2 linked regions of the Homo sapiens genome follow. Changing the gene in region 2 together with the main gene of any one other region gives a genetic interaction. Each region holds a gene or a part of one and is shown on either strand. Other genes may lie near its edges.

The links.
Region 1: changes in CCN6 (region 2) and PTP4A3 together harm fitness less than expected from each alone (positive genetic interaction), as found in Homo sapiens cells (one study listed by BioGRID).

The regions. Positions count from the first base shown.
Region 1 is NC_000008.11:141,422,292-141,430,020, forward strand, and holds part of PTP4A3 (protein tyrosine phosphatase type IVA 3), read left to right. Parts: coding exon 1-54; intron 55-2,756; coding exon 2,757-2,849; intron 2,850-4,647; coding exon 4,648-4,778; intron 4,779-5,458; coding exon 5,459-5,533; intron 5,534-7,729. UniProt on the Homo sapiens protein: Protein tyrosine phosphatase which stimulates progression from G1 into S phase during mitosis. Enhances cell proliferation, cell motility and invasive activity, and promotes cancer metastasis.
Region 2 is NC_000006.12:112,048,759-112,057,975, forward strand, and holds the start of CCN6 (cellular communication network factor 6 isoform 1 precursor), read left to right. Parts: upstream 1-5,345; 5' UTR 5,346-5,576; coding exon of another isoform or gene 5,577-5,599; coding exon 5,600-5,647; intron 5,648-9,217. UniProt on the Homo sapiens protein: Plays a role in mitochondrial electron transport and mitochondrial respiration. Through its regulation of the mitochondrial function may play a role in normal postnatal skeletal growth and cartilage homeostasis.

The sequences.
Region 1 (7,729 bases), on a different chromosome or scaffold from region 2:
CGCTTCCTCATCACCCACAACCCCACCAACGCCACGCTCAGCACCTTCATTGAGGTGAGTGGAGACGGAGGTGTGGCAGGCAGGTGGCCCAGGTGTCTGGGAAGCCCGGCTGAGCTGCCCTCAGGCCTCGCAAGAGGGGTCCCCAGCCCCGGCTGGCCAGACAGGGCTCACAGCCTTGGAACAAAGCCCAGTCGCCTGTTACAGGATCCTGGAGGAGGGAGATGGGGGTGCCCCGGGGGTTGGGGTTGAGGGTGTTGGGGGATCAACGGGGTCCCCTGGGAGGCCTGCAGGGGGCTGGCGTGTGATAGGAGGGACTCCACGCTGTGTGGATAGAGGCAGGGGGTGAGGCAGGGGGATACATGGACCAGGCTGTGCGTGCTCAGCCGTGGCCTGGGCTGGGGCCCTCCCGAGCCCTTTGCTGTCCCAGATGTTGCTGGGCTCTGGATGAGGCCTCAGGTTAGACCAGGCTGGACTAGGGGCTTCAGGGCCCAGATCTCTGTGTGAGGAGGGACTGAGCAAGGGTCAGCGCTGACCACAGGAGGGAGGGACCACTGTGCCCTGGAGAGGCAGCAGAGATACCTGCCGCTGGCAACCCTGGCAGATGGGACGAGATGCGTTTACAGAAGCTTTCTTGGGAGTGGAGTCTGGAGCGACCTGCATGGCCTCCTGGAGGAGCCTGGCCTCTGCAGAACGCCCTGCTGTTTGCAGGCCTGGGGCCGTTTGCAGCGTCTGCAGTTGTGTGCGGGGCCGTTGACAGAGCCTCTGACTGTGCCAGGCTGTGTGAGAGGCTGCAGCTGTGTGCAGGGTCATTTATGGCTGAGTCCTTTCCCCTGTGACATGAGATAAGCCATCATGGTCTTGTCATAATGAAACAGATTTGGGCGTGAGAGGGCATTAAGAACTGTAGAGCAGCAGGAGGCATTGGGCACCTTGCCATCAGGGAGCCTGGACCCTGGACACTGAGCCAGGTGCCCTACAGAAGATGGCTGTCCCTCTCGCAGCTGAGACCCCTGAGATAACAGCAGCATCTACAGAAAGATTGGCGAGAACAGCACGGTGAGTGGCCAGGGTGAGGCCTCAGAATATGACTGGGATCAGGGTTAAGTCTGTAACCAAGGTCAGGTCTCAGTGTGTGACCAAGGTTGGGGCTCACTGTTTGACCAGGATCAGGGCTCTGTGTGACCAGGGTCAGGGTTCGGTGTGTGTCTGGGATCAGGGCTCAATGTGTGACCAGGGTTGAGGCTCAGTGTGTGTCCAGGATCAGGGCTCAGTATGTGACCAAGGTTGGGACTCAGTGTGTGTCCAGGATTAGCGCTCAGTATGTGACCAAGGTTGGGGCTCAGTGTTTGACCAGGATCAGGGCTTAGTGTGTGACCAGGGCCAGGGTTTGGTGTGTGTCTGGGATCAGGGCTCAGTATGTGACCAGGGTCGAAGCTCAGTGTGTGTCCAAGATCAGGGTTCAGTGTGTGACCAGGATTGAGGCTTAGTAGGTGAGCAGGGTTAGGGAGGGCTCATCCTGTGACCAGGGTTAACGCTTAGTGTCTGACCAGGATCAGGGCTCAGTGTGTGACCCAGATCAAGGCTCGGTATGTGACCAGGATTAGGGCTCAATGTGTGACCAGGGTTGGGGGCTCAGCACGTGATCAGGATTAGGGCTCAGAGGTGTGTGACTATCAAGGCTCAGGACGTGACCAGGATCAGGGCTCAGTGTGTGACCAGGATCAGGAAGGGCTCAGCCTGTGACCAGGGCCAGGGCTGAGCCGTGGGCTGGGTGGCCATTCCCTCTGCTGAGGGTGCAGAGGGCCTCTGAGGTACCCCATGGCCACAGAGCCCAGCACCCTGCCTGCTCCCTGCATTCTCAGATAGTTGGGTGCTGGCCTCTCTGTGTTCCAGGTCCCTGTCCCGTGACCAGCAAGACCCATCAGCTGATTCCTCACCCCTCCCAAAATAGCTACGAGAGCAGGTGGGGTGGGAACAGCCCCCGCACGTGACCCCTGTGGAGTGGATCCTCCGCAGTGGGGGTATAACTATCGGCCTGGCTGTGAACTACCACCACCTTTTCCCTGGTCGTGTGGGGCTTCCCTGCTGGCGTACAGGGCCCAGCTTCCTCCTGGCTGCCATCTGAGCGGTGCCCACCCTCCCTGCTCTGAGGCGCCCCAGCTGATGCCCGCCCCTCTTAGACCCTAAAAACTGGACCCATCCCTGCGGCTCAGCTGGGGTCGCTGTTCGGATGCAGGGGCTCACACGTGGGCTGGGGAGTCCAGTTCCTGCTGTGGGGACCCAGTAGCTTTTCTGGAAGAAATGTCCTTGCTGGTAGATCTGGGGTCCTGAGCACCCCAGAGGAGGGAGTGGTGTGCTGGGCAGCTGGGGTCCCAGCTGCCAGTTACCGTGAATGTAGGTGGGGACACCTTTGCCTCTGCTGGGTGGCCCAAGGGACCTAGGACAGGCTCTTCGACAGCCAGACACTACCTCGACCAGTAGTGGAGCCTGAAGTCCACTCTTGGTGGACCTCACTGCATCAGGGTCTGCCTGGCTGGAGGGTGACATGCCCTTCCCTGGGGGCTTCAGGGGCCATGACCCTGCCCCAGGGGACTGAGGGGACAGGGCTCCACCCCGAGAGGTCTGAGGGGACATGTCCAAGTCCTGGGTGACTGTGGGGGACACAGCTGTGCCCTGGGAGCCCTGGTGAGTGGGTCCTGCCCCCTGAGCCCTGCAGCCCCAGCCCAGCCCTGCCTCCTCCGTCCTCCCACCCCCAGGACCTGAAGAAGTACGGGGCTACCACTGTGGTGCGTGTGTGTGAAGTGACCTATGACAAAACGCCGCTGGAGAAGGATGGCATCACCGTTGTGGTGAGGCGCGCGCCACGGGGACCCTAGTCACTGCTGCCACCGGGGGAGGGTGGGGCGGGGGGCTCCGGGCCTGCGCAGAGGGTTTGGTGCCCCTCCTGTGGCAGCCCTGGGCATGTCTGTGCCTGGGCCACGTGTGTGTCTGGGTACATCAAGGGAAGGCCAGGGTGTTGGGCCGTGTGACCTCAAGAAAGTCACCCTTGCGCACCCGTCTTTCTGTCTCTAGGGTGGGCCAGCACGGTTCGCCAGGCAGGGGTGGCACATGCTTGGTGCATCGGCCAAGGTGGCGGGTGGGCTCCTCTGCCTGTCTCAGGCCCTCCTCTGGGCCTGTCTTGGGTGCATCTCAGTCTTGCTGCCTGGGCGGCTGGGGCCCTGTTGCCAGGCAGCAGGCTCCTGGGGAGGGCCCTTGGGCAGTTTCCTCGGCTTCTTTGGCCCTGGGGACCCAGGTCTGGGCGGGGGGTGGGGCGGTTCTGCTGCGATATCCTTGGGGGGGTGGGCCACAGCAGCTGCAGGCCCAGAGCCAGCCCCAGGGGGGTCCACCCCCGGCCCGGTGGACGACTGCCCCCCTGGTGCAGGCCTGCCCAGCTGCGCCTGGGCCTCAGTCTCCTCAGTGCGGAGCACCCCTCAGTCACTGCTTTTCATCCCAGGACTCTGCTTTTGGCTGGGGTTGCAGTTTTGTGACCTCAGCTTGGCGGTTTGGAATGGTGGCAGCGCTGGCGGTTTGGGGTCAGACAGGCCTTGGGCTGCGTCCCGCCTCTGCCCTCCCCAGCCTTGCGACCCTGCAGGTCACTCCGAGCCTTGGGTTCCTCACCTCAAAGCGAGGCTGCTTGGAAGAATGGGAGGCAAAGGCATGTCCCCGCTTCTCGCACGGGGTGCGCCCACACCCTCCCTCCCCTTCCACAGCAGCGGGAGGGATTGGGGTCAGACGTAAGTAGCCGTGACACCGGTTGTCTCTAGGAGTTGCCCTGCCTGGAGGCTGGGGAGGGGTGAGATGCCCCCGAGGGCTGTGTGTCTGCCTCAGTGGGCCCAGCGGGCTCTCCCTGGTACCAGACAGCCCCATGCCTGGCACAGTCCCTGCATGAACCCGCCTTCCCAAGACTGAAACGTGTCCACTCCTACTGCAGCGCCCTGGCCCGGGCCCTCCCCTAGGAAGACTCACGTTGCCCACCGATCTAGGGCGCTGGGGGACGGGACAGTGGGAAGCACAGGTCATCTTCCAAGACCAAATTAACCCCCAGGAGCAATGGGCCGGGGCCCGGTGGAACCGCCTGTTTCGAGTCCTGCCCTCAGAAATGTGGGCCCTGTCTCGCCCCACAGCCCTGTCTTCAGTCCTTCCTGGCACCTGGGCTGTGTGTGGCATGTGCCAGCCATCTTTGCATGCCAGCACAGGGGATGAGACCCTTTGCACCAGCCGACCCAAAACCTCTCAGGCTGCCACCGGCACACAGGCGTGAGGGATTGTGACCCCAGAACCAGAGCTCGGGCTGACAGGTGTGGGGATTAGGATTTGTGCGACTCTGGAGCAGGCTCTATTCAGAAAGGGGTGGGGTGGTCCAGGAAGGCTTCCTGGAGGAGGGGATAGCTGCAGTGTACAGGGAATGATGAGGAGTCTGAAGCACTCACCATGGGGTGCCCATAGGCAAGCTGTGCCCCTCCTGTGTGCCCTCTGGGTCTGCTGCCCCCACCCTAGTGGGCTCCTGGCACCCTCTGCCTCTCAGAGCTCCCTTTCCTCGCCTGAGCCCCAGAGCCGCCTCTCTACCCTCCCTCAGCCGGGGGTCCTCATGTCTGCTTCCCTCCGTAGGACTGGCCGTTTGACGATGGGGCGCCCCCGCCCGGCAAGGTAGTGGAAGACTGGCTGAGCCTGGTGAAGGCCAAGTTCTGTGAGGCCCCCGGCAGCTGCGTGGCTGTGCACTGCGTGGCGGGCCTGGGCCGGTGAGTGTCGGGGCGGGGTAGGGCTCGCCATGTCAGGTGGTTGGGCATCTCGTGGTCTGACAGCCTCGCTTTTGGATGTGGGTCTTGAACACACGTCCACGCGACCTTCCCAGGAGGCCCATGCCCCTAGTGCTGGGGCTCCCAGACTGGTCCTCTCCCAGCATCACAGAGAGGAAGTGCTTCCCAAAGTCTAACCCAACTTCTTCCTGCTATGGTTGAAACCATCCTGACATCTTGTGTAGGAAAGGGCTGCCGTCCCCCTCTCCAGACACAAAGATCCCCCCACACACAGCTGGGGCCTCAGACTCCCTGCTGGGAGAACGGGAGGAAGAATGGCAGCTGGGATCGGATGACATGACCAGTGGGACACCCCCATCTGCAGAGGGAGACCCAGGCGAGCAGAGTTGATAGCAGGCATGGATCCGGCTCTTAGCACTTCACCCGCCAGCTCTTATTTAACCCTCCCCCAGCAGATCACAGAGAGGTTGCCTAGGAGGGAGCCAGGATTTAGACCCAGTGCTCAGGCTGGGCTGTGAGGCTGTGGCCTCCATGGGGGAGCTTCAGGCAGGGGGGATTCTGGGCCCCTTGGGCCCCCGTGCCCTGCATCTTCAGCAGGTGCCCTGCCAAGGGGACAGGGGTGCGCAGGCTCCGATGACCCCCGCCCTGCTGTTTGCCCCCAGGGCTCCAGTCCTTGTGGCGCTGGCCCTTATTGAGAGCGGGATGAAGTACGAGGACGCCATCCAGTTCATCCGCCAGTGAGTGGCCGCGGTGGTGGGGTGGGCTGTGAGCGCTGGGGGAGGGGAGATCCGGCTGCCCACGAAGGGTGGCGGCATTGGCTGTGTGGTTCCGTCGCTCTGAGGCTGCGTCGATCAGCACAAGCTGGGCCTTGCTGCAGAAACGGGGAAGCCTGAGGTGTTTCTGATGGGTGGGGACAGCAGCCCCCGAGTGACCATGCAGCCACACAGGGACACAGCGAGGCCACCCGCCACGCCGTCCTGCCCGCCCTCCACAGACAGAGCTCCTTCTGTCGCAGCCATCCTGACGGGGGTGGAAGGACCCCCAGAGCCAGCCAGTTCAGTCCCTCCATGAAAAACTAGAACCTGAAACCCCACACCACACCGTGTCCACCCCCAGGGACGCTGACAGTGGGCTAGTGTCTCAGGACTACTCTGAGTCTAGCTGCTCACCACCCCTCCCCCCAACCCCGAGCTCTCCAGCTCAGCCCCTCCCCGCCCTCCTTAGAGGCTTCTAGGCCAGCTCGCCTGCCCCATCCCTGTCACTTGGTGGCCTCCCTGGGGAGGGCTGCCATCTGCCCACTGCCCAGGGGGTCCTGGGGGAGTCTGGCCGGGATGGCAGGGCCAACTCTGGAGGAACGGATGCGGCACCTGAAGCCTGCCCCTGCCCAGCCCACCATGTGTGTGCCCGTGAGTGTGACACACCTGTGGTACTCCTCGGACAGGCTTGGCTGGTGGGGCCATCTCTTCCTCCCAGAGGCAGGCTTGTTCCCAGCCATGCCAGCTGGCCCTGTGGGTCTGTGTGAGAGTGTGGCCCGCCCTGTGGGTCTGCGAGAGCGTGGCCCGCCCTGTGGGTCTGTGCGAGAGCGTGGCCTGCAGGTGCTCAGGTCTCCCTGGGGACCATGGGATGTGCACGCTCACACACAGACACGCATGGGGGTCATACAGGCACACATTCACAAGCACATGTGTGCCCACACAGACCCAGGCATACGCAGGCACACACTCACAGGCAGGTGTGTGAACACAGGCACATACAGACAAGCGGGTATTTGCACACATGGACACACATGGATGCACTCAGGCATGTACACACGTGTGCACTCATACATGACATGCACTCTCACACATGCGGGTGCACACCTTCCCCGGGTTCTCTCCCCACCCCACGTCTCACCGAGCAAGGGCTTGTCTCTCCCTTGTGGCTTTTGCTGTGTGGCTCCCCGCACCTGAGGCTGCGCTGGTCAGGACAGGTTGGGCCATGCTGCGGAAACAGCCAGGCCTGAACCCCAACGACTCAGAACAGCACGGGCGTTTCTTGCCCCTGTTGCGTGTCTGTTGGTGGGGGCCCTACCCGGAGGCGTGGCTGAGGGCTGCGCCTTCCCCAGTGTGCCGGCTGCTGGGCGAGGAAACGAGCACGGTGGAGCCACACGGGGCACCTGCAGCTTTGCTGGGCAGAGACTCCTCGCGCTACTGCTGCTCCCACTTCCTTGGCCAGGGCCAGCCTGTGGCCACGCCTGAGGTCATGGCAGGTGGGGATGGATGAGCCTCCAGAGGCGCTGGGTGGGCAGCCCCCGCCCCTCAACGCCTGTCACCTCAGGGCCTCTCAGGTGTGGCTGCAGCATCCTCTCCAGGAAGTCTTCCTGTTCACCCCAGCCAGGTACATGTGGTCAAGGACCAGGTGGCGGGGCAGGGTGAGCACATAGCCCAGGTCCCTGCTGTAAGGACCAGGTGGCGGGAGCAGGGTGAGTGTACAGCCCAGGTTTCTGCTGTAAGGACCCGGTGGCGGGGACAGGGTAAGCGCACAGCCCACGTCCCCGCTGTAAGGACCAGGTGGCGGGGACAGGGTGAGCACACAGTCCAGTCCCCGCTGTAAGGACCAGGTGGCGGGGACAGGGTGAGCGCACAGTCCGGGTCCCCGCTGTAAGGACCAGGTGGCGGGGACAGGGTGAGCGCACAGTCCGGGTCCCCGCTGTAAGGACCAGGTGGCGGGGACAGGGTGAGCGCACAGTCCGGGTCCCCGCTGTAAGGACCAGGTGGCGGGGACAGGGTGAGCGCACAGTCCGGGTCCCCGCTGTAAGGACCAGGTGGCGGGGACAGGGTGAGCGCACAGTCCGGGTCCCCGCTGTAAGGACCTGGTGGCGGGGACAGGGTGAGCGCACAGCCCACGTCCCCGCTGTAAGGACCAGGTGGCGGGGACAGGGTGAGCGCACAGTC
Region 2 (9,217 bases):
TACTTTGTGAAGCTTGTGGTATTTGTAGCAAGTATGAGTATGACTTCACAAATTCATTTTCTTTAATTCAAATTAAACCAGGCTCTGAACCCTCCTCCCCTGCCTCCATCCTGAGATGGATTTATTCTAAGGTATCATTGGTGCATTCCTCCCCACCCCCAATACCATGGCCACCATCATGACCACCCACCCACCCACACCACTGCCACCATGAGTGGGGGTTGAACGACAATCCAGCAGGCCTAGAAGGTGCCTAAAAAGGGGCCAGGCCTCTGATAATCAGTTCCTAAGTTTTCTGCCAATACCTGTATCATCCAAATACGCATAGACACTTGAGGCTTTGCATCCTCACAAAGTTCTTTGAGGAACTTAGCCAGTGCAGGGCACCCTGGTACTGGGGCAGCCTCCTGGAAGTACCATGAATCATCAAGTCCCTCTGAGCTTTAGTCACCTCCCCGGGCTGCTGCATGGGGAGGCCTGAATGTTCAGTCCTCACCCAATGCTCGGCTGCACTCCTCTTCCTCCCCATCGTCTCCCAGCATCACCTCTTACCAGTGAGAACAAGGCAGGATCTCAAAAGGCAAGATAAAGCATGCCAGCAGCTTCCATCCTGTGCTTAGAGGATGGATAGGCGGGAACCCTAAAGGGCCTCACTAACTTCTTGAAATCCAGGAGAGGAGCAGGTGGAAGAAAAATACAGAGAACTCAATGCAAATTAATATATCAATCAATCATCCTGCTACTGATCATGGTGTCATTTACAGGCCATGCAGAGAGCAGCAGAGCATGGTAATGAAATTCTTGGAATCTTGGTTCTACCTCTTGCTAACCATGTGACCTTGCCCCAGTTTCCTAATAAGTAAACCAAAGATGGTAATCACAGAACACAGGCCCAGTGTTGCTGAAGGATCAGAGGAGTTAATACATATACAGCACTCAGTACAATATTGAGACACAGTGACACTCGGCCAATGTTAGCTCTTATTATTATTATACTTTTTTTTTTGAGACAGGATTTCTCTCTGTTTCCCAGGCTGGAGTGCAGTGGTATGATCATAGCTCACTGTTGCCTCAACATCCTGGGCTCAAGCAATCTTCCTGTCTCAGTTTCCCAAGTAGCTAGGACTACAGGTATGCACCACCACACCTGGCTAATTTTTTTACTTTCTATTTTGTAAAGATGGGGTCTCACTATGTTGCCCAAGCTGTGTTATTGTTACTATATCTCTATTTCACTGGAGCAAATATTGACCCCCCTCATAGCACACATTCAATACATTACTTCCACAAACAATATCTTCTCTTTTCTCAAGGATGTCAATACACCCTTCTCCACAATCAGTAAGATAGGAAGATAAGGAAAGAGGGGATGAGGAAAGGAAGACTCATACTGTACTAAGCTTGCTGACCACAGGCATGAGCTCCAAACACTGCCTGCCCGGACGGCTGGTACTCCCAGGAGAAGGGACTATTCTAGCTGTGATGACGCTCCTAACAGAACGATTTTAGGAATCTTACGGGAAAGGAGTGGGGTGTGCTCTGTGCGGGGGAGCTCACCACCATTAGAGGTGTGCATCTTGCCAGTGGAAGGAGTCCTGGACTGGCAGTTGTCTCCCGACTCTTCATCTAGCTTCATCTCTTGACTAAGTATCACTTCCTCAGATGTCCTCTCTGCCCCCAATCTAAATTAGCTCTCACCTGTCATTCTCTCTTATAATTTCTTCTTTGCTCTTATTAGCCTTTATTCAACTTTCAATGACGGACATTTTGTGTGTTTATTTGTTCAGCGTCTTCTCTCCCAGTAGATTATTTAGCTGTAGAGGGCAGAGATTAAGTGTGTTTTATTGACCAAGTATAATCGCTTAGCTTTCACTTTTTAATCTGTTAAATGAGGTTGGTAATACTGCTTTTGCCCACCTCACTGAGCTGTGAAATTAAAAATGTAATACACAGGAAACTTCTTTGTAAATCATAGAACATGGTGCACATTGAATTATGCTTAGCGCCATGTCTATTGGAACGTACATCACAAACTGAACACTTGTGAAATGAGCTCCTAGACAGATTAGCATTCTGTTAAATGAGATAATAGGGAAACATGCTCAGAACAGGACACACACTGTGAAAGCTCTTATTGTGTAAGGTCAAAAATAGCAGCCCCGACCTCTAAAACTACCATATCCATGGAGTCCACACACAGTCGGCTGGAAAGAGTTAAATAGGAGCTCCCACAGCCAAAGATGTCTAAACACATGTGGGAGTGAGTAACCCAGCGCCAGTGTGTTCTGGAGCTGGGGGAGGTTTTGCAGGTCACTTTTCAAGCAAGATGTTCCTTTCCTACCAAGAGGCAAGGATGGTCAACATCTATCTTCCCCTGCTCCACGTCAGTGAGACTGCAGAGGGATGGAAGACGATTCCAGAAAAATGCCTGCTGCCGCCAGCATTTCACAGACAGCAAACGGGAGGAGGGTGAAACTCCTTAAATTCAAAAATTGCACTGATATGTGCATTACTATATGTGGAACCGGGGGAGAGCTGGAGCTGGAGAGATACAGTTGATGAATACCCCAGTGTTGGGATGCGACTCCTCTGCTTTTCATAGACAAACCAGAAACATGAAATTATCCATCCTGACAGCCGGTGTGGTGTGGGAATCACAGGCTGGTACCCACAGACCAATGGTGATAACCAGGAAGATAAAAAGACAAAGATCAGATTGGACACTGATGGGTCTTGACTCTTTATCCAATTTGCCAGTCTGTGTCTTTTAATTGAAGCATTTAGTCCATTTACATTTAAGGTTAATATTGTTAAGTGTGAAGGTTAATATTGTTATGTGTGAATTTGATCCACATTATGATGTTAGCTGGTTATTTTGCTTGTTAGTTGATGCAGTTTCTTCCTAGCATTGATGGTCTTTACAATTTGGCATGTTTTTGCAGTGGCTGGTACCAGTTGTTCCTCTCCACGTTTAGTGCTTCCTTCAGGAGCTCTTGTAGGGCAGGCCTGGTGGTGACAAAATCTCTCAGCATTTGCTTGTTTGTAAAGGATTTTATTTCTCCCTCACTTATGAAGCTTAGTTTGGCTGGATATGAAATTCTGGGTTGAAAATTCTTTTCTTTAAGAGCATTGAATATTGGCCACCACTCTCTTCTGGCTTATAGAGTTTCTGCCGAGAGATCCGCTGTTAGTCTGATGGGCTTCCCTTTGTGGGTAACCCGACCTTTCTCTCTGGCTGCCCTTAACATATTTTCCTTCATTTCAACTTTGGCGAATCTGACAATTATGTGTCTTGGAGTTGCTCTTCTCGAGGAGTATCTTTGTGGCGTTCTCTGTATTTCCTGAATTTGAATGTTGGCCTGCCTTGCTTGGTTGGGGAAGTTCTCCTGGATAATATTCTGAAGAGTGTTTTCCATCTTGGTTCCATTCTCCCCGTCACTTTCAGGTACACCAATCAGAGGTAGATTTGGTCTTTTCACATAGTCTCATATTTCTTGGAGGCTTTGTTCGTTTCTTTTTATTCTTTTTTCTCTAAACTTCTCTTCTCGCTTCATTTCATTCATTTGATCTTCCATCACTGATACCCTTTCTTCCAGTTGATCGAATCGGCTACTGAAGCTTGTGCATTCATCACGTAGTTCTCGTGCCATGGTTTTCAGCTCCATCAGGTCATTTAAGGACTTCTCTACAGTGAGAACACTGGGACACAGGAAGGGGAACATCACACACCGGGGCCTGTTGTGGGGTGGGGGGAGGGGGGAGGGATAGCATTAGGAGATATGCCTAATGCTAAAGGACGAGTTAATGGGTGCAGCACACCAACATGGCACATGTATACATATGTAACTAACCTGCACATTGTGCACATGTACCCTAGAACTTGAAGTATAATAATAAAAAAAAAAAAAGAAAAGAAAAAGATCAGATTGGACCAAAACAGACACATTTTCTTCACTACTCCATTATCTGGTTTTGTCCTATTTCTTAGGGAGGCAAGATAAGGCGTTGGCATCCTAACTGCAGTGGGTATTCCTTGTTGTTTGATGTGCATATACTTACAGTTTAATGACTCCTTAGTAAGCTCTGTGTGATCTGCAGGTTTTAGGGTGTCCATGGTTCTCCAAGGACACCAGATTCTCTGTGGTGGAGGACAGCCTCGTTTTTCCCAGGCCCTCAGCTCAGGCCTAAGCGAGGCTTGATGTTGTCTTTATACAGTAGTGACTGCCTTGAACAGTAACAAAGGTGAGCAATCGGTATAGGATAGGTAAGGCAGCAGGAAAAGGAGGGATAGGTAACTGATCAAAGGAAATAGAAATAGGCCTTGGGATGGGGGCAGGCAGGTGGGACGCCTCAGGGACCTGAGAGGGACAAAGCACCACGGCAGCTGCAAATGAAGATGGGAACACAGACCCAGGCTGAGAACATGGAGAAGCGAAGGTCCCACATGATGACACAGGAGGAGATGCGCTGGTGGTCACACCTTTCAGGGAGGTGAGTATGAAGAAGAGGAGTACAAACCTGTCAAAATTTTATTTTTAATCTTTTTTTTTTTTTTGAGAATAATTCTCACTCTTGTCCCCCAGGCTGGAGTGCAATGGTGCGATCTCGGCTCACTGCAACCTCCGCCTCCCAGGTTCAAGCGATTCTCCTGCCTCAGCCTCCCAAGCAGCTGGGATTACAGGCGCCTGCCACCACACCTGGCTAATTTTTGTGTCTTTTTTTTTTTTTAGCAGAGACGGGATTTCATCATATTGGCCAGGCTTATTTTTAATCTTAATTCATTAAATGAATGATTGCTACCAGTGTAATTGTTTTATTTTAGGCCCGGAAAAATGGAGGTTAACTTCATTGTCATCTGTCATGGAACTGTGGCCACAAAAAGAGGCGTCTCTCAGGCCAGGTACTGTAGGAGTCCGCCCCCTGCTCCATCTGTATTTTTTCCACTCACAGTCCACCTGGCATGAGAAAGGTGTTGGGATAAAGGTGAGCCCAGGGCACTGTGGGTGCCTCCGAGAGAATCTGAGCTGGGGGAGTCAGGGTCCTTCGAGAGCCTGCCATTAATATGGAGGGGGAAAGCCAGGGCTAGGCTGCGATGGGTGCTGTTGGTGGGGGGGCCAGGCCTGCACTCTGTACGTGAGGGTGAAGCTGGAGAAGGAAGCAGCCTAGAGAGGACCCGGAGCAGGGCAAACACAGATGGAGAAGCTGAGGGCAAGGAAGGGAATGACGTGGGACCCCACCCGTTGTCGGGGGCAGGCTCTGCTCTCCAGGAACAGGTAACACAGTCACTTAGAGAACAGTCACTACTTGCCCTGCCCTCCTGAGTCCCGGGAGGAAAGTGCTCGCCCATTCCTGACCTGTGACACGCTCACTGCGAAGGCAGGTTATTAGAAGAGTCCCATGAAAGTAAACAGGGTATTAAAACGGATCCTTAAAAATGAAAGTGCAGGCTGAAAGTTGGTAGTGTGGGAGGTAGAGGGTGTGTGTTCTTGTGCAGAGGAGCGTGGGGTTTGCAGAGGAGACAGGGGAGCTTTGTGTACCCGGAGCAATGAACAAGCGGCGACTTCTCTACCCCTCAGGGTGGCTCCACGGTCCCAGCGACATGCAGGGGCTCCTCTTCTCCACTCTTCTGCTTGCTGGCCTGGCACAGGTAAGTCCTCTCCCCCGACTCTTTCCCTTCCGGAGGCTATGGCCATCCTTAGTTCTTCAGGCCCAAAACTAAACAAAACGAAGATGGAGGAAGAGGGAGGATCAATGGCTTGTGGAACTACTTCATGAGAAATAGGAAGCCATTTTTCTTTCCAAATAAAGTTCTGTGTTCGTTCATGAGCTTCATGAAAGAAATGTAAAACATTTCTCCCTTTCAGGTAATGGCACCGAAGCCTCCTTTCGCTATGTTTGAACAGCGCCACGCTTTCCTATATATTTTTATAGCAGAGCCTAAGGCACAGCCTGGCACAGTGCGGGAAACAGTGTCTCTCCATGCCAGCTCCAGGCGGAGGCTCAACTTTCCATTGCTGTTTGCAAAATGTGCAAAGAGCCCCTGGAAAAACGAATTTTGACAGCGACTTTTTCCAGTTAAGTCTGTCCTTCTTTGAAAGGGGCACTTTGGAATAAACATTTACATTTTTAAAACATTCTCTTACTTTGTCTTTTCTCAGTCCATGTGTTTCTCACTTCCTGAAAGGGAAGCAGTCCATGGAGGCTTGGAAATATTTCAAGCAACAGACCAAAGGGAAGTTTAACTTACTATGAGCAATTCATTGCCTTAGTCTTTTTAAATAAGAAGATGAAAACAAGGTGACTTAATTGTTGATTTATTTACACGGTAGACAGGAGACAGAGCTTTTGAAATCTGGTGATTTAGGAAACATGGGTGTGTCTGTGAGTTAGTAGTTGATTGGGGCCATAAGTAGTAGATACATCTTAGAAAACAAGGAATTGCAAATTGTTATACCATATAGAGAGAGATTTACGATTTCAAAAGAATCATGACAAGAATGTCAGTGGTCCAGGTCATTGCTGCTGTTCTGTGGAGGGGCTCACTCCCCTGTCTGTGTGCCTCCTATTCCACTGTTCTTGAGAAAAAGCCTGTCATTGTGGATTGAGAGCAGCTAGATGTTCTTAGACAGCAGGTATTCCAACACAGAGAGATGTGTACAAAATAAACAACAACAAACACAGAAAGGTGTTACACAAAGAGCGGTAAAAATGGATTATTTTGTGCTTAACTTTGCTTTTATGAATTCATAAATTCATGAAATAGCTGATAATACCTAGCATTTACTGAATAGCTGCTATATGCCAAATACTGTGCTGGGTGCTTTATTTATTTATTTATTTATTTATTTAGAGACAGAGCCTTGCTCTGTCGTTCCAGGCTGGAGTGCAGTGGTGCAGTCTTGGGTCACTGCAACCTCCACCTCCTGGGTTCAAGCGATTGTTGTGCCTCAGCCTCCCAAGTAGCTGAGATTACAGGCCTACACCACCATGCCTTGCCAATTTTTGTATTTTAGTAGAGATAGGGTTTTGCCCTGTTGGCCAAGCTGGTCTTGAACTCCTGACCTCAAGTGATCCGCCCACCTCGGCCTCCCAAAGTGTTGGGATTACAGGTGTGAGCCACCACCTCCGGCCCAAGGGTGCTTTAGTTATTATCTTAATTATCAAAACAACTTTACAAGGTGGTCATTATTAATCCCATATTACAGAGGAGATCAAATGATGGGAAGTTCTGTAAGATCACAGAGCTGTTGCAAAGCTCGGATCTGTTGTCAAAATGCTTATTCTTTCTATTGCACCATTCTAGTGATGCTTATTGTCCTGAAATTTTGCTGTTGAAAACAATCAAAATATGCCTGAGGAAAAGTGAAAAATATAAGATTCTTTATATTTACCCACATATTGACTATGTCCAGGCCTCTTCATTTCTTCCTGTATTTCTAAGTTACTATCATAACAGAAGATCTTCAGACCGAAGATCCTCCTTTAGTATTTCTTGTGAGGCAGATCAGCTAGCAACAATTTCTCTTAGGTTTTGTTTACCCAGAAACGGTTTTTATTTCACCATCATGTTTGAAAGACAGTTTCACTGGCTATATAATTCTGGATTGACAGGATTTTTTTTTTTCTCCGTTTAACATTGTCTCTGGGCATCTTGTTCTTCTCCATCTCTCCCTCCTCCTCCTTCTTTTGATGAGAAGTCAGATCTCAGTTTTATTGTACTTCTGTATGTAATGCTTCCCCCTTTTCTCAGTCTACTGTTATGATTTTCTTTATTTTGAGATGGAATCACCCTCTGTTGCCTAGGCTGGAGTGCAGTGGCGTGTCTTGGCTCACTGCAACCTCTGCCTTCTGGGTTCAAGCGATTCTCCTGTCTCAGCCTCCTGAGTAGCTGGGACTACAGGTGCACGCCACCACACCTGGCTAAGTTTTTGTATTTTTAGTAGAGATGGGGTTTTGCCATGTTGGCCAGGCTAGTCTTGAACTCCCCGCCTCAAGTGATCCACCTGCCTCGGCATCCCAAAGTGCTGGGATTACAGGCTATTTCAGCTTCATTTTTGAAAGATGGTTTCACTGGCCATATAATTCTGGGTTGACAGGTTGTTTTTTTTTCCTTTCAACATTGTCTTTGCACATCTTCTTCTCAATCTCTTCCTCCTCCTCCGTCTTTTGATGAGAAGTCAGATCTCATTTTTCATGTAATTCAGTATGTAATGCTTTTCTCAGTCTACTGTTATGATTTTCTCTTTATCCTTGGATTTCAACAGTGTTACCTTTTGACCTCAGAGATTATCTGGAAATGCTTCAAAATTGGAAAGTTAAAGAGGCATCCGGGGGCAGTTTTGGGAGTGTGCATTTCATTAGAAAGAACACATGAAAAAGCAGGGAGGAGAAAACCAACCCAGGGAGTCCAGCAAATGGCAAGTCATGGAAGGAGAGTGTGTGAGAGCTAAAGCTCAAGAGGTAGGCAGGAGAGGGCTTTGGATAACTGGCTCAGAAGTTTAGGCTGCACAGTATGGACTATGGGGAACCCCTGATGGGCTTTAAGGAGAGGAGTAATACAACCAGACATGTTCTTTAAAGAGATTCCTCCAGGAGCAACATAGTAGATGCACTTGAAAAGTCATTCTGGAGGGAGGAAGGTCAGTCAGGAACTCGTAGTGACGGTGCTTACTTAGTAGCAATGAAATGGGGAAAAGCATCTAGTTCTGGGAAGACGAGGACAATACAATACATAGGAGAGGGTCACTGAATCGTCATAGGAGGTGAGAGGGAGGAAGACAACCCAGATGAATCCAGCTTCCTGACTCCAAACTTTGAAGAGTGAAAAATGATGACTTTTGGACTTGAGTATTTCCTGGAGGACATTTGGGTGGAGATGTCCAGTAGGTAGTTATCTCACGGGTCCAGGGCTCAGTGGAGAAGTCCAGGCTGGAAATTTAGTTTTGAAACTTGCATAGGATGAAAACTGAAGGCAAGGGTGTGGGTGAGATTGCCAAGACACAGTGTAGAATGAGGCAAGCAATACATTAAAGCTATGAAACACCAATAGGCCTAAATTTAAGTCAAATTCAGGGTAACAGGAGCCTGCGGAGGAGATTGAGAAAGTGCGTTGAAAAGTAAGGGGAGGACTGGGGGGACCAGATGTAATGAAATCCAAGGTAGAGGAGAGTTAAATGCCTTAGAGAGGTGGGGCAAGAGGAGGACTGAAGAGGGTTCA